Linked DNA regions of Homo sapiens: all the other regions are linked to region 3. Evidence: fine-mapped expression QTL. A gene starts in region 3. Each other region holds a variant in brackets. All regions are shown on one strand. Distances are between the middles of the regions. Region 1 overlaps LIAS (lipoic acid synthetase). Region 2 overlaps KLB (klotho beta). Region 3 holds the start of KLB (klotho beta).

What was found.
Region 1: its variant is fine-mapped to the expression of KLB in cerebral cortex (GTEx, PIP above 0.99). The same link has a PIP of 0.9 or more in cerebellar hemisphere and cerebellum.
Region 2: its variant is fine-mapped to the expression of KLB in testis (GTEx, PIP above 0.99).

What each region holds. Positions count from the first base shown.
Region 1 is chr4:39,466,556-39,474,741 of GRCh38, forward strand. LIAS (lipoic acid synthetase) reads left to right here. Exons shown (of 11, transcript NM_006859.4): 7 at 963-1,091; 8 at 3,464-3,609; 9 at 4,681-4,751; 10 at 6,545-6,656. Among named protein-coding and RNA genes, the nearest start is that of LIAS, 12 kb to the left of the region's middle. The variant G/A (reference allele first, on the strand shown) is at 5,066.
Region 2 is chr4:39,443,697-39,451,882 of GRCh38, forward strand. It overlaps KLB (klotho beta), which reads left to right. Exons shown (of 5, transcript NM_175737.4): 4 at 2,636-3,779; 5 at 4,605-7,837. The coding sequence ends at 4,990. Among named protein-coding and RNA genes, the nearest start is that of RPL9, 11 kb to the right of the region's middle. RefSeq lists an enhancer at 3,433-3,622. The variant C/T (reference allele first, on the strand shown) is at 3,270.
Region 3 is chr4:39,403,197-39,411,382 of GRCh38, forward strand. It overlaps KLB (klotho beta), which reads left to right and starts at 3,734. Exons shown (of 5, transcript NM_175737.4): 1 at 3,734-4,578. The coding sequence starts at 3,754.

The sequences.
Region 1 (8,186 bases), 63 kb after region 3:
AAAAAATAAATTAAAAAAAAAAAATAGCTGGATGTGGTAGCATGTGCCCATAGTCCTACCTGCTTGGGAGGCTGAGGCAGAAGGATTGCGTGAGCCCAGGAGTTTAAAGTTACAGTGAGCTATGATGCACTGGGCAACAGAGCAAGACCCTGTTTTTATTTAAAAAAAAAAAATTATAGGATATGTTCTTTGAATATCTCTTATATTCATGATAAGGGTGTACATGTGGTCTTTTCTACATCTGTTCTTTCAGGGAACAACTCCAGACACTTTGCCAGTGGGTTTGTGAAAAAATGTGTCAGCTGTTTCAGTCGTTTTTGCTGGTGTCAAAGGGAACAGCTCTGTGACCCAGTTCACATTATAATACTTGGATGAATAGATATAGCCACAATATAAATAGGAAGATTAATGTTTAGCTCGTACTTCGTTTAACAAAGCTCATGACTCAGCAACCCAGAAAATAGTTTTTAAAACCCGTAGCACTTGTGAAATATTTGCCTAGAGGAAGGGAGGAGAGCATGATTTGATGACTTTTTAAAGAAATCAAAATTAAAGCAATCAAATAATACTCACATTTATATAAGAAATACTTCAATTTACTTTCCAATGAGTAAAGTTTTATATTTAATGTTTTAATATTTCATATTTTAGTTTCTTGCAATTATTTACTTTTTCTAAAACCTACTTAAATTAGGTTTAAAAGTCTACTATATATAATTTGAAATTTTATTCAGTTTGCCTACAGGTGTGTTTTAACCACTGTGTACATAGTATTTAACGGTCTGCTTTTTTTTTTTTAATAATGGTTCATGTATGAACATCTGTATGTTCATACTTTTCTTGACAAAGTTCTAAAGGTTACTGTGTTGAAGCATACTGAACGATTACTGATAATTTCTATTTTGAGGAACAGGTATGTCAGTTCTTTCTCTCTGTTTGATAATTCTCTCTTTTCCCCTTAGGAATCCAAAAATCCTTGTGGAGTGTCTTACTCCTGATTTTCGAGGTGATCTCAAAGCAATAGAAAAAGTTGCTCTGTCAGGATTAGATGTGTATGCACATAATGTAGAAACAGTCCCGGAATTACAGAGGTGAATACGTGTACAAAGTAATGTTGGGAAGTTAGGCGGGTCAAAATATGCCATATATTCTTGCCTTTTCCAGGGCTGAACTTTGCCATTGACTTTTACAAAGTAAACTCTATTCTTTTTTGTTTTTTAGGCAAACTCAATCTATGTCTCTTACATAAAAATCAGAAAATATCACCAACAAAATCAGCATAAATATCACCCATAATAGTATTTCCACCCAGCAATATCAGTTACTAACACCTTAGTGTTTATATTATAAACACTATATTTATACTACATATTTGTATTTTTATATTTATAATATACTTAATTTTTATATTACAAACATTAAGATGTTAGTAACTCATATTACTAAGTTACTGTGTGTGTTTTAATACCCACAAATAATTAACATCTTTTTTCTTTTGTTTTAAAATAATATCATACTGCAAATTTCAATAAGTTGTTTGTTTCCCCCTCCCCACAAATAAAGTTTTCAAAGGAGGGAAAAAATTACACTAGAGCAATTGCTTTGGTTGTAATTCTAAAGAAAAGACTTCAAAAATATATTTGGCTGGATGCTGTGGCTCACGCCTGTAATCTCAGCACTTTGGGAGGCAGAGGCAGGCAGATTACCTGAGGTTGGGAGTTCGAGACCAGCCTGACCAACATGGAGAAACCCCGTCTCTACTAAAAATACAAGATAGCCAGGCGTGGTGGCACATGCCTGTAATCCCAGCTACTCGGTAGGCTGAAGCAGGAGAAGAATCACTTGAACTCGGGAGGCGGAGGTTGCAGTGAGGTGAGATTGCGCCATTGCACTCCAGCTTGGGCAAAAAGAGCGAAACTCCATCTAGAAAGAGAAAGGAAAAAAAAAATATATATATATATATATATTTTTTTATATTATATATATTCATATATATTTATATATATATATTCAGCACTAATATGTGTAATAAATGATGCAGAAGAAAAACTCGTGGCTCACGCCTATAATCCTAGCACTTTGGGAGGCCGAGGCGGGCGGATTACCTGAGGTTGGGAGTTCAAGACCAGTCTGGCCAACATGATGAAACCCCATCTCTACTAAATATACAAAAAATTTTAGCTAGGTGCAGACCTGTAATTCCAGCTACTCTGGAGGCTGAGGCAGGAGAATTGCTTGAACCCGGGAGGCGAAGGTTGCGGTGAGCCGAGATAGTGCCATGGTACTCCATCCTGGGCGACAGCAAAACTTTGTCTCAAAAAAAAAAAAAAAGAAAAAAACTCATATCATTCAGATGTACTTTTTAAAAAAAGTAGACACTATGCTTTCTTATTCCTAATAATTTCAGTAATTAAGACTAATCATTGGCAAGTAACACTGATGTAAGAAAAAAAGTAAGGATTGTTATCCACATCCATTCAAATTTTAGAAAAATGAACATTTTAAGCTTCGGGCAAGAGTAATATCATTTTTTTCTTTAATTTTAGCATTTAGCAGTGATTTTATTAGCTTCTACATATGATCTGTGTCATAGAGCCTGAAAGAAGTTACAGTAAACAATAACCACCATTTTCACTAAATCATAAACAGTAGAGACCATAACTTAATTTCAGTGGAGAAATTCTGTTAAAAAGTGATTTCTATAATGTCAGTTTCAGTTACTTTTAAGTTCATAAATTTGTTTCTTCTCTTTCCTGTTAACTAGTCTCCAATGAAAAACAATTACAGAAAATAAAGCTGCATTAGAATTGAAATGAAATCCAGTTTAACATCAGAAGCTTTCTGGCCTTTTGGCTTAAAGGATAAGTCATTTAAGCCATGGTGGTTTGGCCATTGTTGAAGTCTAGGACACAGCCTGTTCCAACCTCATCATGATACCACCACCAGTGGGTGCCAGTTTCCCTGGTTTCACTTAAAAACATGATCCTTTCCAGTGAAAATTCCAGAATCATGCATTTCTTTACCTAATATGTGGCAGTGTTGTATACTTACCAGCAGAGGGCAGCTTAGTCTTCAGAAAAGAAATGAACTTGAAAGTTTCAACCCTCTGACATGTGGGTTCAGCTTATTTTTTTCTTTGTTCAGTATGGAGACTCTCTTACTTCTGCTTTTTTTCCTTTCTCTTCTAATTTTTCGCTTCAGAATTCTGGTTTCTCAATGCATAAACTGAAGTAATTTCTTCCATTCTACTTTTCTCTGCCCCAGGCTTGAGATAGAACTAGGGAGCCCAGTGAGGCCTTTTCTTTCCTAAATTAACAGGCATCTGTGCATAAATGCTACCTTTGAACTATGTGATTTAAGATAATGTGCAGAATGTACTTCTCTGGTCTTTCAGGTTGCTTGCATAACTATGTACTTGGTTGAACTTGTAATTCTTGCTGACAACAGTCCTGCTGTTTTCCAGTAAGGTTCGTGATCCTCGGGCCAATTTTGATCAGTCCCTACGTGTACTGAAACATGCCAAGAAGGTTCAGCCTGATGTTATTTCTAAAACATCTATAATGTTGGGTTTAGGCGAGAATGATGAGCAAGTATATGCAACAATGAAAGGTAAAGAAATTGAAAAATGAAAAATCTTTCCCATGTAATTTGAGTAATAGCAGGAACCCACTCACTTTGAAGGCCCTTCTAAGAACAAAGAAAAGTATATGGTTATAGATGGCAGCATGAAAAGGAAACCAACTTGCACATGCACCCTCAAATCTAAAATACAAGTTAAAAAAAAAAAAGCAAAGGAAATAAATTTTCTTGGAATTTCATGGAGTGATATGCATGACGCTCAGGATACAAAATTTATATCCCATTTTATTCCCCATCCTTTGCATCCACTGAAAGCATGATTTCATCCACTTTTCTCATTCTATCATTGGACACTTTTGGAGAGCCAGCCTGGTACCAGGCACTGACAGTTCATAGATCAATGAGACTAATCCAGGCCTCTGAGAAAGAGCTTACTTGTAGCATTGTCACATAACATGGTGTGCTTTGGACTTTGCTGAACTTTAGTCCCGTAAGTCCATTTGCTTTGTGATTCTTGGACTTTTTAAACTTTGGAATTTCAAAGTTTTAATTTTAGCTGAGGACCCTTGGACTACTTGTAGTTATTTAGTGGTTCAAAGAGTAATAAGTTCATATAATAATCAAGACCTGCTGTTTACCACATTGCACACAGTTTATTAGAAAGATTCTGATATGTCATAGTTTAAATCACAGCCCCCATAGCATATCTTGTGCATTGAGTAAAAGCCTAATGCAACATATTTGCTCTATAATATAGGTGCATTGAGGTTTTTGCATATACCATTTCCCATACCTTTTCTACCAGACTCCTACTCTAAAATACCCTCCACTACTATTTTAGCATTGATTCCATAGTATTAGAAGTATTTATCCTTGTATGTATCAGCCCTACATGACTGTCTTAATTATTATTGTTTTCAGTCCTTACCACAGTCCCTGGCACATAATACTTTTGAATGAATAGATGTTGTCTTATTCCCCAACATGAAGATTATGGACTGTCATAAAGTTCACACCGTTTTTAAATATTCCTTAGGAAAATTATGCTTAGATCTACAATTAAAGTATTTGCTAATGTAATTTGTGCTTTTCTTCCTACAGCACTTCGTGAGGCAGATGTAGACTGCTTGACTTTAGGACAATATATGCAGCCAACAAGGCGTCACCTTAAGGTACATGTATCTTGATTTGCTTTTTTTTTTTTTTTTTATTTTTAAAGATGGAGTTTTGCTCTTGTCGCCTGAGCTGGAGTGTAGTGGCACAATCTCGGCTCACTGTAATCTCTGCTTCCTGGGTTCAGGTGATTCTCCTGCCTCACCCTCCTGAGCAGCTGGGACTACAGGCGGGTGCCACTACATCCGGCTAAAATATACATATATATAATTTTTTTTTTTTTTTTTTTTTTTTTTTGAGACGGAGTCTCGCTCTGTCGCCCAGGCTGGAGTGCAGTGGGGCAATCTCGGCTCACTGCAACCTCCACCTCCCA[G/A]GTTCAAATGATTTTCATGCTTCAGCCTCCTGAGTAGCTGGGATTACAGGCACACACTACCACACCCGACTAATTTTTTTGTAGTTTTAGAGACAAGATTTTGCCATGTTGCCCAGGCTGGTCTCGAACTCCTGAGAGCTCAGGCAATCCACCCGCTTCGGCCTCCCAAAGCGCTAGGATTACAGGCGTGAGCCACCGCACCCAGCCAATTTTTTATATTTTTAATAGAGATGGGGTTTCATCATTTTGGCCAGGCTAGTCTTGAACTCCTGACCTTAGGTGATCCACCCGCCTCAGCCTTCCAAAGTGCTGGGATTACAGGTGTGAGCCACTGCGCCCAGCCCATGTATAGCTTTTGACTCCCAAAAAAACATAACTACTAATAGCCTTCTGTTGACCGGAAGCCATACCAATAACAGTCAATTAACACACATTTTGTATGTTACATGTACTTATATATATACGTATGTGTGTGTGTATATCTGTATATACACACACACATATACACACACACACACACACACACATATATACACATCTTATTCTTATGATAAAGTCAGCTAGAGAAAAAATTTTTTGAAGAAAATCATAAGGAAAAGAAAATATATTTACTAGTCATTAAGTGGAAGTGGACCATCATAAAGGTCTTCATCCTCATCATCTTCATGTAGATGAGGACAAGGGAGAAGAGGAGGAGTTAGTCATGCTGTCTCAGGGGTGGCAGAAATGGAAGAAAATCCTTGTATAAGTGGGCCTGTGCAGTTACCATGTTGTTCAAGGCTCAGCTGTATTCTTATAAGTCCCAGTTTTCATTTTATTATCTACATAAATCAGCTACGTTTGCACATATTTGCTGCCTCCCCCATTCTCTTCACAAATTTCACAACTCAAGTGAACCTAGAGAAAAAGAATTTAAAAGTTGGGAAATGGCACTCATTTACACTTGGTTATTGTGTAACTTGTTTTTGTTATGTTAGAGCCAGAGGCGAAGAAAGAATGGGAAACCATTCTTTCTATTTCTATCATGGACATTTATCCATTCATTCAAGAAGCTTGTGTTGAGCAGTGACCATGTGCCAGTCACAGTGCTAAGCAGAAGATACAAGTTGAGTAAGACAGTCTTGTCCTCAAGAATCAGATAAGCATGAGTAATTCTTGAATTTAGCTGTTAACGAAGGAAAAATATAGATAAATAATATCTGTAGATAATCTCTTCTTTCTCTGTCCTTTGGAATAGCCATTGTAGCACAAAATTGATATGCTTCCCTGTCTCTGTAATTCCCTGTATTTACATCCCAATAGAGTGGCCAAAAAGTAACCAGTAAACACGTAGTCAGGGAGGAGGGAGAGGACAAAAGCCTGGGGGTGGGGGCAAGATAAATTACGCAGTGAAGAGCATTCTGCATACATAGGTATAGACTTTCTGCAGAATCAAAGTGGAATTCTAAAATCTGATCAGAAGTAATTATTTAAATCTAGGTTGAAGAATATATTACTCCTGAAAAATTCAAATACTGGGAAAAAGTAGGAAATGAACTTGGATTTCATTATACTGCAAGTGGCCCTTTGGTGCGTTCTTCATATAAAGCAGGTAAGTTAGATTGTGGGGCATGGTTTCATTTAGGCCGTTAACTTTCCACATTAAGTTCTACCACCAGTCACTAAAACTCTTGACAAATTCTAATACCTTTGGTGGTCTTGGTAGAGGGCGTAGTTTTTCTTCTGGAACATCCTTAGGAGCTTTGCTCCATGGGGATCATATTAAGAAAAGTTTCTCTTAATCTTTTGTTTCTTAAACAAATTCAGCCCCCTGCTTTGTAACTCAGCTACTATAGTAAAAGCAGAAACAATTAGTTTATTAATTTTTTCTATGTGTAGATTTCAGTAGTAGGTTATTCAGAAATGACAGAGCATGTCAAGCATCTAATAGGGTTTTCTGAGAAATACATATTTATTTGGAAATGATGCCAGCTGCATCTCCAGACTCAGTTTCAATCAGTTTAAGCACTGAAAAGTATCTTATTTGATAGCATTGCTTGCATCATTAAATTTCTTTGTATTTTTCCCCCAGAGGCAACAGAAAAATATCCATAAGATTATTTTTCTCCGTAGGAACGTTTAGTTGTTTTACTAGCTACAATGCAAATTTTTTTTACTTTTGGAATTTCAGCTCTTATTTTAATCAATAGCTTGAATTGATTTATGAAAAGAAAATCATTTTCCAAGGGATAAAAAGTCATGTGATAATGATTGTCGGAGGATCCAAAAGAACATATCTGAAGACCGAATTTAATCTAGAAAGTGTTTATGATGTCCCTGTCAGTTGGACTTAACAATTATAATGATTAAGAATAAATTGGCTGGCCAGGTGGGGTGGCTCACACCTGTAATCCCAGCACTTTGGGAGGCTGAGGCGGGCAAATCACGAGGTCAGGAGATCGAGACCATCCTGGCTAACACGGTGAAACCCTCTCCACTAAAAATACAAAAAAATTAGCCGGGCATGGTGGCGGGCACCTGCAGTCCCAGCTACTCGGGAGGCTGAGGCAGCAGAATGGCATGAACCCAGGAGGCCGAGCTTGCAGTGAGCCGAGATTGTGCCACTGCACTCCAGCCTGGGCAACAGAGCAAGACTCTGTCTCAAAAAAAAAAAAAAAAAAAGAATAAATAGGCCAGGCAAGGTGGCTCATGCCTGTAATCCCAGCACTTTGGAAGGCAGTTGGATTACTTGAGCCTAGGAGTTCAAGGATGCAGTGAGCTATGATCGTGTCACTACAGCTCCAGCCTGGGTGACAGAGCAAGACACTGTGTCTCAAAAATAAAATAAAAAAAAGAAACAGCTAGGCCAGGTGTGGTGGTGTGTGCCTATAGTCCCAACTTCTTGGGAGACCGAGGCAGGAGGATCGCATGGGCCCAGGAGTTCAAATACAGCCTGAGCAACATTGTGAGATCTCATCTCTTTATTTTTTATTTTATTATTATTATTTTTTTTTTAGATGCAGTCTCTCTCCATCGCCCAGGCTGGAGTGCAGTGGCACAATCTTGACTCACTGCAACCTCTGCCTCTCAGGTTCACGGCATTCTCCTGCCTCAGCCTCCTGAGTAGCTGGGACTACAGGTG
Region 2 (8,186 bases), 40 kb after region 3:
GTTGCAGTGAGCCAAGATCGCACCATTGCATTCCAGCCTGGGCAACACAGTGAGACTTTGTCAAAAAAAAAAAAAAAAAAAGAAAAAAGAAGAAATCTGATGTTGATACTTGGGACTCTATGAATATCCTATTCCTCAACAACATTTCACTCCATGGTTTTAACATTCTTTCATGAACCGGGCCGGGCACAGTGGCTCACCTGTAATCCCAGCACTTTGGGAGGCCGAGGTGGGTGGATCACTTGAGGTCAGGAGTTCAAGACCAGCCTGGCCAACATGGTGAAGCCCCGTCTCTAATAAAAATACAAAAACTAGCCAGGCATGGTGGCTGGCATCTGTAATCCCAGCTACTCAGGAGGCTGAGGCAGGAGAATCGCTTGAACCCGGGGGGCGGAGGTTTCAGTGAGCCAAGATCGCGCCATTGCACTCCAGCCTGGGCGACAAGAACAAAACTCCGTCTCAAATAAACAAACAAACAAACAAACAAAACATTCTTTCATGAACCTTGCCTTAATCATTACTTTGTAAATTGCAAAATGGTAAATTTCTAATCGGATTATTCCCTCCACATTTATTAGCTGGATGATGTTTTATAATTCATTATTGTCACTATGATATTGTTCCTTTTGATGCTCAAGTTGTTTCAAATTTAGTCAATGGGACCCCCTCAAGCTGTTTCTGTCTTTTCCACATTTCCCTTTCAGTTTTTAAGCACTTCCTTATTTTCTGGCACAAGATGCCCACCTTCATCTCATTCTTCTCCTGGAAAAAGCCATTTCTCCAAGGAGTACAAGGTCCTTTTGGTGGGGAATAGGATTTTAGAAACAAGCTCTGGGAGCTGGGGTTGGGATTGGGATGCATCATCTTTAACTAGAAAATTAACCTCTTAGCAGACTAATCATACACACTTGCTGAGATTAATGCTTTCTGAAGGTTTTTAACGTAAGACATTTTTATTTGATCTTGCCTTGCCCCATAGCAAGACTGCCTTTTATAAACATCCTTTCAATACCATGATGTTCTGAGTTTTCAAAACATTAAAACTGGCCATCTAGGCTAGGAGGATTTTACTCAAATAATGAATTATATACGGATTTAACTTCATGCTCACATGATCAATGTTCTCTTAGTTTAATGTTCTAGATAACTGGTTGGCAGATGGCAAACGGGCAGTGATATGGTTTTGTAATTAAACTATGAAAGATGACACACGAAAAAACAATTAGAGGGAAGATATTTACCAAAGGTTAATTATAGTTTTTTCCTGGTGTATTTAAATTCTGTCATGAGGGGAAAAAGAAGTACTTTAAAACAAGTACTTAACTTTTACTTTCCCTTATTAATCTTGAATTTGGGAATGTTTTTCTTAAGGGCTTTGTTTTAGTTTGGACTCAAGGGCCTAGCAGGCAATTATTGCCACTAGGGAAAATGAAACCCAAGTCATGACTACATTGTGTTTGTATAGCGCTTTAGAGTTCCCAGAGCACCTTCCCAGAGTCACTGAGTCCTCACAGCACACCTGTGAGGTGGGTGCGATTACTCCGTCACTATATAGTTGCCAAGCCTGAGTTTCAAAGGGGCAGAACTAGAACAGGAGTCCAGGGCTCTCTCCTTCGTGGAGAGACACAGAATGAGACTCTGTCAGATCCAAGTGTCAACCTTGGGAGTTTCTAGGGATAGTCTACTGTCCTTTCCACCCATAACCCATTTATTCATCTGTTGGATGAATAAATGCTATGTTCTCACAGGCACATGGGTCGGGGAGACATGATGGATGCAAATGTGTTATCACTTGAACTTTTCTTTTCTTTTTTTTTTTTTTTTGAGATGGAGTTTTTGCTCTTGTTGCCGAGGCTGGAGTGCAATGGCATGATCTCGGCTCACTGCAACCTTCGCCTCCTGCGTTCAAGCGATTCTCCTGCCTCAGCCTCCAGAGTAGCTGGGATTACAAGCATGCGCCTCCACGCCTGGCTAATCTTGTTTTTTTGTTTTTTTTTTTTTTTTTAGTAGAGACGGTGTTTCTCCATGTTGGTCAGGCTAGTCTCAAACTCCCAACTTCAGGTGATCTGCCCGCCTCAGCCTCCCAAAGTGCTAGGATTACAGGCATGAGCCACCGCGCCCGGCCTGGATTTTTTAAATACAAGTTAGAAATTTGCATTCAGCAAAAGCAAGGGGTCATTGCCTACCCCACCGCACCAGCCTTTTTAAGGAATTGTGCCTGGGGTCAACCTCCTCTTCTCAGTGAAATCTCTACAACAGGAATTTCAACTTTGTCTTCAATTTATGGCAGGGTTTAGAATCTCTTTTGTAATTGCTTTTAATTGAGTGTACCAAGCCAATTTCCTGATGCATTTGAACAGAATCACTTCAAACCCCACCATATATAACCTAGGGTTTAAAGTTAAATGAACTGGAAAATGGCTTCCCAATGTTTTCTCAAACAACTTGTTTTCCAAGCCAGGACCTGGGTGTGGCTCCTTCTCTGTTTTCTGGTCTCCTTGGGAGATTTCAAGGGCTGGAATAGGCCTGGCGTGGTGGCCTGTAATCCCAGCACTTTGGGAGGCAGAGGTAGGCAGATCACTTGAGCCTCCATCTGCCAGCGCATGCTTGACCTAAATGAGCTTGTTTTTCACAGCCCGAGTCTGTGGCTTCGTCCCCACAGTTCAGCGATCCTCATCTGTACGTGTGGAACGCCACTGGCAACAGACTGTTGCACCGAGTGGAAGGGGTGAGGCTGAAAACACGACCCGCTCAATGCACAGATTTTGTAAACATCAAAAAACAACTTGAGATGTTGGCAAGAATGAAAGTCACCCACTACCGGTTTGCTCTGGATTGGGCCTCGGTCCTTCCCACTGGCAACCTGTCCGCGGTGAACCGACAGGCCCTGAGGTACTACAGGTGCGTGGTCAGTGAGGGGCTGAAGCTTGGCATCTCCGCGATGGTCACCCTGTATTATCCGACCCACGCCCACCTAGGCCTCCCCGAGCCTCTGTTGCATGCCGACGGGTGGCTGAACCCATCGACGGCCGAGGCCTTCCAGGCCTACGCTGGGCTGTGCTTCCAGGAGCTGGGGGACCTGGTGAAGCTCTGGATCACCATCAACGAGCCTAACCGGCTAAGTGACATCTACAACCGCTCTGGCAACGACACCTACGGGGCGGCGCACAACCTGCTGGTGGCCCACGCCCTGGCCTGGCGCCTCTACGACCGGCAGTTCAGGCCCTCACAGCGCGGGGCCGTGTCGCTGTCGCTGCACGCGGACTGGG[C/T]GGAACCCGCCAACCCCTATGCTGACTCGCACTGGAGGGCGGCCGAGCGCTTCCTGCAGTTCGAGATCGCCTGGTTCGCCGAGCCGCTCTTCAAGACCGGGGACTACCCCGCGGCCATGAGGGAATACATTGCCTCCAAGCACCGACGGGGGCTTTCCAGCTCGGCCCTGCCGCGCCTCACCGAGGCCGAAAGGAGGCTGCTCAAGGGCACGGTCGACTTCTGCGCGCTCAACCACTTCACCACTAGGTTCGTGATGCACGAGCAGCTGGCCGGCAGCCGCTACGACTCGGACAGGGACATCCAGTTTCTGCAGGACATCACCCGCCTGAGCTCCCCCACGCGCCTGGCTGTGATTCCCTGGGGGGTGCGCAAGCTGCTGCGGTGGGTCCGGAGGAACTACGGCGACATGGACATTTACATCACCGCCAGTGGCATCGACGACCAGGCTCTGGAGGATGACCGGCTCCGGAAGTACTACCTAGGGAAGTACCTTCAGGAGGTGCTGAAAGGTAAGGGCGGGGCCCCTTCAGACACAGGGCAGAGCGAGATTCCTGTTACCTGACAAGAACAAAGAATGGGAGCAGCAGGCTGGTGCCTGACAGCATCCAATTTGTGGCACCCAAGTCCTGTCAATTGAATTTTGTCCTGAAAACTGGCCTATGGGATTTTTGAAAAAATTTTAAAATCATAAAAGTAACACACACCAATTATAGAAAACTGGGCACGTGGAGAAGTTTTTAAAAAATCACCTGAAATCTCACTCCCCAGGATAAACAGTCACTATTTTGGGTTACTTATTTTCACCATGCTTGCTAGGCTTTAAAAAAATGGTTGTGGGTAAACAGGTGTATAAATTTATGGGATGCATGAAATGTTTCGATACAAGCATGCAATGTGAAATAACCACATCATGGTAGCTTAAGCGAGCGACAGTGAGTGAGTGGGTAAAACCAACTGTGATTCCTGGGCTGCACCAAGAGCACATCTGAGGTTCACAATCAGGCCAAATAGGCAACGTTTTTCTGCTTGTGACCCTTTAAACAAAAGTGACAACCTTCATTGCTCTGCTCCTTAAATTTGCTTTTTCCTCCAAGAGTTTTTGGATTATTTATGGATCAAGTTTCACTACAAATTTTTCAGACTTAAATTATACATATTTTCACCTTCTCCTTTACATAGATCATAAAAGAATAAATGTCAAAAAAAACCCTCTAATAAAAATCACTACCTTTATTATGGGCATAATTTTAGCTTGTTTCAATGAAAACTAAATTCTTCCTCAAAGATACTTCATAGTCCATTTGTGATTAATGTTAATTTCTTATCTTTTTCAGCATACCTGATTGATAAAGTCAGAATCAAAGGCTATTATGCATTCAAACTGGCTGAAGAGAAATCTAAACCCAGATTTGGATTCTTCACATCTGATTTTAAAGCTAAATCCTCAATACAATTTTACAACAAAGTGATCAGCAGCAGGGGCTTCCCTTTTGAGAACAGTAGTTCTAGATGCAGTCAGACCCAAGAAAATACAGAGTGCACTGTCTGCTTATTCCTTGTGCAGAAGAAACCACTGATATTCCTGGGTTGTTGCTTCTTCTCCACCCTGGTTCTACTCTTATCAATTGCCATTTTTCAAAGGCAGAAGAGAAGAAAGTTTTGGAAAGCAAAAAACTTACAACACATACCATTAAAGAAAGGCAAGAGAGTTGTTAGCTAAACTGATCTGTCTGCATGATAGACAGTTTAAAAATTCATCCCAGTTCCATATGCTGGTAACTTACAGGAGATATACCTGTATTATAGAAAGACAATCTGAGATACAGCTGTAACCAAGGTGATGACAATTGTCTCTGCTGTGTGGTTCAAAGAACATTCCCTTAGGTGTTGACATCAGTGAACTCAGTTCTTGGATGTAAACATAAAGGCTTCATCCTGACAGTAAGCTATGAGGATTACATGCTACATTGCTTCTTAAAGTTTCATCAACTGTATTCCATCATTCTGCTTTAGCTTTCATCTCTACCAATAGCTACTTGTGGTACAATAAATTATTTTTAAGAAGTAAAACTCTGGGGCTGGACGCTGTGGCTCACACCTGTAATCTCAGCACTTTGGGAGGCCGAGGCGGGGAGATCACCTGAGGTGAGGAGTTCGAGACCAGCCTGGCCAACATGGTGAAACCATGTCTCTACTAAAAATACAAAAAATTAGCCAGGCGTGGTGACAGTGGCACCTGTAATCCCAGCTACTTGGGAGGCTGAGGCAGAAGTTTGAACCCAGGAAACAGGTTACAGTAGGCCAAAATTGCGCCACTGCACTCCAGCCTAGGCGACAACAGCAAGACTGTGTCCAAAAAAAAAAAAAAAAGCAAAAGCAAAACTTTGTTTTGTTAGACTCTACAGCAGAGATTTAACACCCTTCTTTAAACTGGGTAGTCAGTGATAGATAATATATATTCTGTCACTTCTAATAAGGTGCCTTCTCCTTTAGGTCAGGGTGGTTCTAAAATGGAAAGAAAACACAATAGGGTAAGTAGTGCTTGTCTAAGCCAGTTACAACACAGACTCTTAAAGAGGATCAAGCCCTTCATTTTTCTAACAACAAAAAATCACCTATAGAATATCTAATTTGTGATCTTTTACTAGATCTGATTTTTTAAAATAATGTAATTTCCGGCCAGGCACGGTGGCACCGCCTGTAATCCCAGCACTTTGGGAGGCCAAGGCAGGTGGATCACCTGAGGTTAGGAGTTCGAGACTAGCCTGGCCAACATGGCAAAACCCCATCTCTACTAAAAATACAAAAGTTAGCCGGGCATGGTGGTGGGCACCTGTAATCCCAGCTACTCAGGAGGCCGAGGCAGGAGAATCGCTTGAACCCGAGAGGCAGAGGTTGCAATGAGCCAAGATCGTGCCATTGCACTCCAGCCTGGGGGACAGGGCAAGACTGTCTCTCAAAATAAAAAAAAATAATAAAAATAAAAATAAAAGTAATTTCCAAAACCTCATCTCATGGAAAGATCACAGGATGAAGGAAAGCTAGACTCAACTCTGTGAATAGAAGTTGCTATACTGTAAGTAAAGCAACAATTCAGAATACTGAATGAGTTTAAATTGTTTTATATAGCACCCTTTTGGGCTAGGGTTAATTACTAGATCTGACTTGGATAATTTGACACTTTGGGAAATGAACTCTGTTCTTGAGACTTGTTCAGTGTATTTTAAACATCTGAGGAAGAAAACTTAAATATGCACCTATTTATACCTATTCTTTCTTTAGGTCAACATTTAACACCCACTGCATACATTAATTTGTCCTTGTCTGCTCACTCCAGCAATTTAGACCTTAACAGTCACAAGAGACGTTCTTCTGTTACAAAGCCTTAGTAAATTAAGGCAGTTTTGATTATATTCTAGGTCCACCTATGTCTGAAGCTAAATTCAGTATCTAACTGCTAATGAACAAGTTTCCAAAATACTGTAAAAATACAATTAGTCAATTTGAGTAAATGCAAATATGATGAGAAATCAATTTGCTATTTGGCCTGGCAAATGGGAACAGTAAAATTCTGCTTTACTCTTCTCTAGTCTCCTTGCCCCAGCTGCACCCACTACCCCAAAGTTGGCAGTTTTGAGGTATGATTTTCAAGGAATTTTTTTAGTATTAACATCTCCCTCTGAGAACTATGTACCTAAGGTCACGCATACAACTAGTCAATTCTGTTTTTATTACTCTAACTATGTAGAAACAGTAAGTCACTTAAAACAATCACTTGGCTGGGTTTTTTCCCCTTTGTGCCACATTGATTCACCCTGACCCAAGAACTCCAGGGAAAATTCTTTAATGTCAACTGGGCAACTCATTAACCTCTCTTTAACATCAAGGGCTTGGGAAAAAAAAAAAAAAGGTTAGCCACAGGAATAACAAAAACCTGGAATTTATCTTTCAGGTTTTGCTTTCTCTTTCTCACTTTGTTTAAAGTATCTCGTACTCACAGTTCACAAATTAACCTTCACTGTCTCTTTCACATTAAGAGCTTATGCTTAAAGCATGCCCCCCTTTTCTAACTTGCTGGTTTACCATAAACTCCCCTAAGTAATAAAATTCCTAACCCAGTACTGAGAGTCCTCCTTCTCTGCCACTTGGGCATTATTTTACTAGTTTTTAAGCCATCATCGCACAAGAATCCAAAAACCCTTAAATTTTTTAACCACTGGCAAATATGTACAGCAAATTAGGTTAAGCATTTAATCTGGCTCATGCTCTATCATACTAAATATTCAGGTTTATCATAAACTCCTTAAAAACCATCAAAGGTCAACCAGAAACTGATAACTCTTGAAAGGAGCAAACAGGTAAGATCTTTGGAGTTTAAGCTTTTCTGAGATGTGTTGTGAAAAATCTAACGTGTTTATCGTATATTCAATGTAACAACCTGGAGAATCACAACTATATTTAAAGAGCCTCTGGAAAATGAGGCCAGTACAGTGTGACTACATGTTTAATTTTCAATGTAATTTATTCCAAATAAACTGGTTCATGCTGACCACTTGTATTCAACTAACAACCTGGTCAATTTTAAGAACTGTTGAATGTGAATGGGTTTGGCATTGTAAATGGGCTCTGCCCCAAGACTGCCTCCCCTGAATCCCTTTCTGCCTAGTTGTGCACCAACTTGGTATGTTACTTCTGGGTATATTTTCTCAAAAAATGTGGCTCAGGTGTGGTGGCTCACACCTGTAACCCCAGCACTTCGGGAGGCCAAGGTGGGCGGATTGCTTGATTCCAGGAGTTTGAGACCAGCTTGGGCAACGTGGCAAAACCCTCTCTACAAAAAACTAGCCAGGCATGGTGGCACGTATTTGTGGTCCCAGCTACACAGAAGGCTGAGGTGGGAGGACTGCTTGAGCCTG
Region 3 (8,186 bases):
CTAGTCTTGAACACCTGAACTCAAGCGATCCTCCTGCCTCAGCCTCCCAAAGTGCAGGGATTACAGGTGTGGGCCCTCATGCCCAGCCTACTATAGATACTCTCATTCATTCAGTAAATACTTTAGTGACTGCTATATGTCAAGTACCATGCTGGGCCACAGACAATCAACAGGGAACCAATCATGGTCCCTGTTTTGGTTTTTAAAAAAGAGAGAGAGAGAGAGAAACAGAGAGAGAGAGAGAAAACTTACACTCAAACAGAGGATACAGATACATTTATTGTGTGGTTAGCTGATTTATTGTGTGTCATAATAGAGAAAACATGGGCTGCCATGGGAAAACAGAAGATCCATCTAAATCCAATCAGGCTAGGGAGTCATAGGGAGTCAGAAAGGCCTTACTAATGCAGGAACAGAAGACCAAATACCGCAGGTTCTCACTTATAAGTGGGAGCTAAATGATGAGAACACCTGGACACATAGAGGGAAATAACACACTGGGGCCTATCAGAGGGTGGAGGGTCGGAAGAAGGAGAGGATCAGGAAAAAAAAACTAATGAGTACTAGGCTTAATACCTGCCTGCTGAAATAATCCATACAGCAAACACCCATAACACAAGTTTACGTATGTAACAAACTTGCACGTGTCCCTGAACTTAAAAGTTAAAAAAAAAAAAAAAAAAAAAAAGACGGCCGGGCGCTGTGGCTCACGCCTGTAATCCCAGCACTTTGGGAGGCCGAGACGGTCGGATCACGAGGTTAGGAGATCGAGACCATCCTGGCTAACACGGTGAAACCCCGTCTCTACTAAAAATACAAAAAACTAGCCAGGCGTGGTGGCGGGCGCCGGTAGTCCCAGCTACTCAGGAGGCTGAGGCAGGAGAATGGAGTGAACCTGGGAGGCGGAGCTTGCAGTGAGCCGAGATCCCGCCACTGCACTCCAGCCTGGCAGACAGAGTGAGACTCCGTCTCAAAAAAAAAAAAAAAAAAAGATAGACATGAGCTAGATGAAGGGAGAAACATACTCTGTGCAGAGAGCACACATACCAAGGTACAGGGCTACAAGTTAGCAGGCTGTGTACCCCTTAGTCAACTGAGAGAAGTGAAGCTAAAAATGTGGGCAGGAGCCAGAACAAATTGTCTTTTATGCTAAATCCTGGCATCATGTCCTGAATAATCTTTCCCTTTCACACAAAAATAATATTAGCACATAACTTACTATGTGTCAGTCTCTGTTCCAAGTGCCTTACATGTACTGGCTCATTCGTTTCTATATTCCAGAGAAAACCATTTGGTTCAGTGTATTAACTCGTTTAATTCTCACAATAATCCATGAAGTGCATATTATTATTATGCCTTTTCTTAAAGAGGAAACTGAGGGCAAGTTACACAGCTATATTTAAACTCAGGCAGTCTGCCTCTAGAGGCTCAATCTCTCTTTTTTTTTTTTTTTTTTTTTTTTTTTTTTTTTTTTTTTTAGACAGAGTTTTGCTCTTGTTGCCTAGGCTGGAGTGCAATGGCGCGATCTCGGCTCACTGCAACCTCCACCTCCCGGGATCAGGCAATTCTTCTGCCTCAGCCTCCCGAGTAACTGGGATTACAGGCATGTGCCACCATGCCCAGCTAATTTTGTATTTTTAGTAGAGATGGGGTTTCACCATGTTGGTCAGGCTGGTCTCGAACTCCTGATCTCAGGTGATCCAGCCGCCTCGGACTCCCAAAGTGCTGGGATTACAGGTGCGAACCACTGTGCCGGGCCTCAATCATCTTTTTTTAGAGGTGAGGATAGTCTCACTATATTGCCCAGGCTGGTCTCAAAACTCCTGGCCTCAAGCAGTCCTCCCCACTTAGCCTCCTAAGTAGCTGGGATTATAGGTGTGAGCCACCTCATCTGGCACAGAGACCAAACTATTAACCACTCTGCTTCTCATTCATATGTGATACTTCAAATATTTAAAACATTTATTTATTTATTTATTTATTATTTTTTGAGACAGAGTCTCATTCTGTCACCCAGGCTGGAGTGCAGTGGTGCAATCATGGCTCACTACAGTCTTGACCTCTTGGGCTCAAAGCAATCCTCCCACCTTGGCCTTCTAAAGTGCTGGGACTACAGGCATGCACAACCACACCCGGTTAGTTTTTAATTTTTTTTGTAGAGATGGGGCCTTATTATGTTCCCCAGGCTGTAAAACATTAAATTTTTTACAGGTTATTTGGAGGCTATCGATTTGGTACAATATTTCTTTCTGTATGTGCATGTATTTCTTTCTGTATGTTTATCTTTATTCCAGAATCATGCTGAAGGTAGTCTATGCCTTTGCTATTTTCTTTTTCAGGTTTTTCTTTCCTTTTTAAAAATAAATATTGCCTATTCTTCAAGGGAACTTTCATAATAATTTTCTCTTTTTTTTTTTTTTTTTATTTTGAGACCGAGTCTTGCTCTGTTGCCCAGGCTGGAGTGCGGTGGTGCGATCTCAGCTCACTACAACCTCCACGTCCCAGGTTCAAGAGATTCTCCTGCCTCAGCCTCCCAGGTAGCTGGGATTACAGGTGCCCACCACCGTGCCCAGCTAATTGTATTTTTAATAGAGACGGGGTTTCAACATGTTGGCTAGGCTGGTCTCAAACTCCTGACCCCAAGTGATCTGCCTGCCTTGGCCTCCCAAAGTGGTGGGATTATAGCCATGAATCACTGTGCCTGGCCTTTCGTAATAATTTTCTTGAACTAAAATTTGGGATTAGGCCAGGCATGGTGGCTCACACCTATAATCCCAAGCACTTTAGGAGGCCGAGGCAGAAGGGCTGTTTGAGCCCAGGAGTTCAGGACCAGCCTGGGGGACATAGCTAGACCCCACCTCTACCAAAAAATCAAAAATCAGCTGGGCATGGTGGCATGTGCCTGTTGTCCCAGCTACTTGGAGGCTGAGGAGGGAGGATTGCTTAAGCCTGGGAAGTTGAGGCTGCGGTGAGCTGTGATGACACCACTGCACTCCAGCCTAGGCTACAAAGCAAGACTCTTATTAAAAATTAATTAATTAATTAAAAAATTAGAGATTAGAGAATTTTAGTTAAGTTAAATAAATAAAATAAAAAATAAAATTAGAGATTAGAGGATTTTAGTTAAGTTAAATGTATTAAATTGAAAAGTATTTCATTTTTCCATCCACAAAGTGCTATATTTTCTCATTCAAGTCTTCTCTCAAATCTACCAATACATTTTTGCAATTTTCCTAAAATAGGTAACATTTATTAAGATTGTTCTTAGATGCGTTATAATTTTGTGGAGAAGTGTAATTTCTTATTGTGTTTTCTAATTCTTTACTATTGGTATGTAGGAATGCTATATACTTGTATATGTTATTTTTCTTGATATATGAGATTATAAAATTACCACACAAAAACTCTAAAAATAGAAAAGCTATATACCTTATTCAATAATGTTCAAAACATTCAGAAAAGATTTGGGTCAATATGAAAGGCTACACGGAAAATAATGTGATTTTAATCCAGTGTTTACATATGTGTTAGTTACACATTCAAACTCTTGTCACCGATGCATTTTCATCTAATTTTTTCCATAATGAGAGAGAAGGAGACGCGTTGGTGACTGCAATAGGGCCACCTCCCTCAAATTACGTTGCTCTCTATGACCCATCCTCAGTCTCCCAGTTCAAGCTAATCATTGACAGAGCTTTACAATCACAAGCTTTTACTGAAGCTTTGATAAGACAGTCCAGCAGTTGGTGGCAAATGAAGCCAGGCTGTGCGGCAGGATCTCCAGGGAATGAATGGATTTTCTTCAGCACTGATGAAATAACCACACGCTATAGGAATACAATGTCCAACGGGGGATTGCAAAGATCTGTCATCCTGTCAGCACTTATTCTGCTACGAGCTGTTACTGGATTCTCTGGAGATGGAAGAGCTATATGGTCTAAAAATCCTAATTTTACTCCGGTAAATGAAAGTCAGCTGTTTCTCTATGACACTTTCCCTAAAAACTTTTTCTGGGGTATTGGGACTGGAGCATTGCAAGTGGAAGGGAGTTGGAAGAAGGATGGAAAAGGACCTTCTATATGGGATCATTTCATCCACACACACCTTAAAAATGTCAGCAGCACGAATGGTTCCAGTGACAGTTATATTTTTCTGGAAAAAGACTTATCAGCCCTGGATTTTATAGGAGTTTCTTTTTATCAATTTTCAATTTCCTGGCCAAGGCTTTTCCCCGATGGAATAGTAACAGTTGCCAACGCAAAAGGTCTGCAGTACTACAGTACTCTTCTGGACGCTCTAGTGCTTAGAAACATTGAACCTATAGTTACTTTATACCACTGGGATTTGCCTTTGGCACTACAAGAAAAATATGGGGGGTGGAAAAATGATACCATAATAGATATCTTCAATGACTATGCCACATACTGTTTCCAGATGTTTGGGGACCGTGTCAAATATTGGATTACAATTCACAACCCATATCTAGTGGCTTGGCATGGGTATGGGACAGGTATGCATGCCCCTGGAGAGAAGGGAAATTTAGCAGCTGTCTACACTGTGGGACACAACTTGATCAAGGTACTGTACAGCTAGCTTCTTCTTATAGCTTCAGAAAACACTAAGAATTTAAGAATTTACCTTCTGCCTCAGTAATTCTCTTCACTGAAATCAAGGCAACTGATTTTAAGCTAATTCAAAAGATCTATCCTCAAATTTTGCATTTAAGTTAGTGTATGTTTTATTTATCTAAGGTATTTTTAATGTATTAATCCAATTAGTTTTTTCAAAAGTTGCACTTTGAGGCTATTTTTAAATCTACCATTATACACTACAGTGTGAATATATGAGCTTACTTTCATTCTGTGGGAAAACAGTGCTTCATAAATTTAATTGTTGGAACCCTTTTCTGACAACATGCAATCATTTCAGAATTATCTTAAGGCACAACCATTTCAAATATGTATTTGTTGTTAAGTATAGCTAACTTAGCTAATAAGTAAATAAAGTAAGTAAATAAGTAAGCCAAATAAATGTTAGCTAACTCATGCATATTAAATACAGAAATTTAAATATACTTCACTTTTGATTTTATTTGTGTTACATAGCAAAAAAGAGAAGATTAATTGTTATGGGAGCTAAACACATTTCTTCCCATAAGAACTGGGAAGAATGTGCTCTACTAAAGCAATTTTCAAGCAATATATTTCAAAAGCTAGAGATAATGTTGAGAAATGTTAAAATTAGTAAAACAATAGTGAAAATACAAGCAAAATAATAGGTAATAATTACTGAGTACTTATTATGTACCACAGACTACATTAAGTATTTTACATGCATCGTTACAGTTGATCCTCTTAACAGCCTTTTGAACTAGTTTTATTATTCTTCCCATTTAAAAGATGAGGAAACTGAAGCTTAATGAGATTAAATAATTTTCCCAAGGTTAAGGAGTAAAATACAGCTGTTGTGGACATGGATTTTTTAAATGACAACATAATTAACACTAACTGTCTTCATTAAGAATGCTTTGAAAAGAAGACTCAGGAATTTGCAAGAGATTTAGCCTCACATTGAGGCTAATATCTAGAATCGAATTTAACTTTTTGAGTCAAATAGTTTACTTAGGAAAAATAAATTATTCTGCACACCTGTTACATTTTAAAAATGAAAAAACTTTATCAATATAATTTTATAATGTGCTACAAAAAGTAATTTAATTATTAATAATCAAAAGCTAAATATACAGAAGTAGAAAAAAAATACAGCAACATAAAATAATTCCATGTCTAAATTTGTACATACAAAAATATCTGCTATCACTTCTTTTCTTTTTGAACTTTTCTGGATTATTACACATGTGCATTGTACTATGGTTTCAGATACATCTGCCCTTGAGGTAAACAGATTGCATTATGATTTCAAGGTCATTTGCATATCTTTGACTAGAGTTGTATATAGAACATATTAATGTGTGGGTATACTGTGATTTGACAAAATAAGACCTTAAAGGGTAGAAATTGTATAGGTATTTAACAGTTATCAAGATTATGCATACAAAAGTTAGAAAAATATTCCTCTCATTTAGTCCTTTTAATTTTCTTTTTTTTTTTTTTTGAGACAAAGTCTCACTCTGTCACCCAGGCTGGAGTGCAATGGCGCAGTCTTGGCTCACTGCAATCTCCACCTCCCAGGTTCAAGCAATTCTCCTGCCTCAGCCTCTTGAGTAACTGGTACTACAGGCACATGCCACCAGCCCAGTTAATTTTTGTGTTTTTAGTAGAGAGGGGTTTCACTATGTTGGCCAGGCTGGTCTCCAACTCCTGACCTCATGATCCACCTGCCTCAGCCTCCCAAAGTGCTGGGATTACAGGTGTGAGCCACTGCGCTCAGCCAGTCCTTTTAATTTTTAAAACAATTCATGCTCATGTACATTTAAAAATATCAGATTGGGCCGGGCACAGTGCCTCATGCCTGTAATCCCAGCACTTTGGGAGGCCAAGGCAGGTGGATCACAAGATCAGGAGTTTGAGACCAGCCTCGCCAACATAGTGAAACCCTCTCTACTGAAAACACAAAAATTAACTGGGCGTCGTGGCACGTGCCTATAGTCCCAGTTACTCGGGAGGCTGAGGCAGGAGAATCCCTTGAACCCGGGAGGCAGAGGTTACAGTGAGCCGAGATCACGCCACTGCACTCCAGCCTGGGCGAGAGTGAAACTCTGTCTCAAAAAAATAATAAATAAAAAATAAAAATATCACATTGTACCAAAGGATCTAAAGTGAAAAAGTTAAATCCCTCTCCCTCTCTTCACCTGACAATCCCAGGCCAAGGACGCTACTGTTAATAGTTTCTTATACATTCTTTTTAAAGTTTTCTATGCAAATACATGCATGAATATGTTTATTTAACCTTTGTATAAAGAAAAATATTCTAAATTGTTGAAAAGTCATTACCTGGAAAAATGTCAACAATTAGAGTTTTCATGAAAATGTATTTTAAGGATTAAAGCCTTAAAATTGGCTGATAAGAATAAACAGGCAAAAAGCTTTAACAGATATTGCTTCCAAACATAGTTGATAAAATGACATATTTTCAGATGTTTTCATTTTCCTCTAATTTGAGATATTCTCTGCCTTTAACACAAAATTAGCACTTTATGATCGTGAGATAAATTTTATTATTTTAAATGGAGGGATATGTTTTTCAACTATTGTGTTTTCCAAATAATGTTTGTATTGCCTTAAAAGTTCTAAATCACTAGACTAAATAAATGGTGTGAGGGGTCCTTGAAATCAGTCAGAAAGTGAAATACACTGCATGACCCAGTGACGTATAGCACTAAAGAAATCTTGCAATGATTTGGTAGCCTGAGGTGAACTTGTTTTTCCCACTTGTCCCCTCGCTGTCTTGACTTTCACGTAGAAAACATTAATTTGATATTTTACGTTGCAATGAAGTATTTCTTCCTTCTCCTGCCCCCTTGTGACCCAGAAGAAGCATTCTTTAGGAATAGTTTTTAGACCGAAAACATTTATTGAGCTACACAAGCCTAATATAAAACTGAATTCTGGGGGGGTATGGACCCCTTCATTCCCCACTTCTCAGATAGAGAAAAGGTTTCATAGTGGCTATTGGGGTCCTTTTCGTTCCAGAATGATCTGGAAAACTCCATCTCGGTTTGAAATGTTCCCATTTGGAGGAAACCTGAATGGTCCAGAGGGTCCCAAGGCTGACTTGCAATTTAGATTCCACTTTATTGCAGATGTAGGGAGTACCTTAATGCGGGTCTAAGACTCAGGTAAAAATTTTCCATAATCACACCTACTAATGGATGAACCAACTCTAAGTTTTTGTTTTTGTTTTGTTTTGTTTTGAGACGGAGTTTTCGTTCTTGTTGCCCAGCCTGGAGTGCAGTGGCACAATCTTGGCTCACTGCAACCTCCGCCTCCCGGGTTCAAGCGGGAGCCTCAGCCTCCCGAGTCGCTGGGATTACAGGCAAGTGCCACCACGCCTGGGTAATTTTTTGTACTTTTAGTAGAGACGGGGTTTCTCCATGTTGGTCAGGCTGGTCTGGAACTCCCGACCCACAGCGCCCGGCCTCAAAACTAAGGTTTTTTTTGTTTTGTTTTGTTTTGTTTTGATTTTTTTTTTTTTTTTTTTTGAGACGGAGTCTTGCTCTGTCGCCC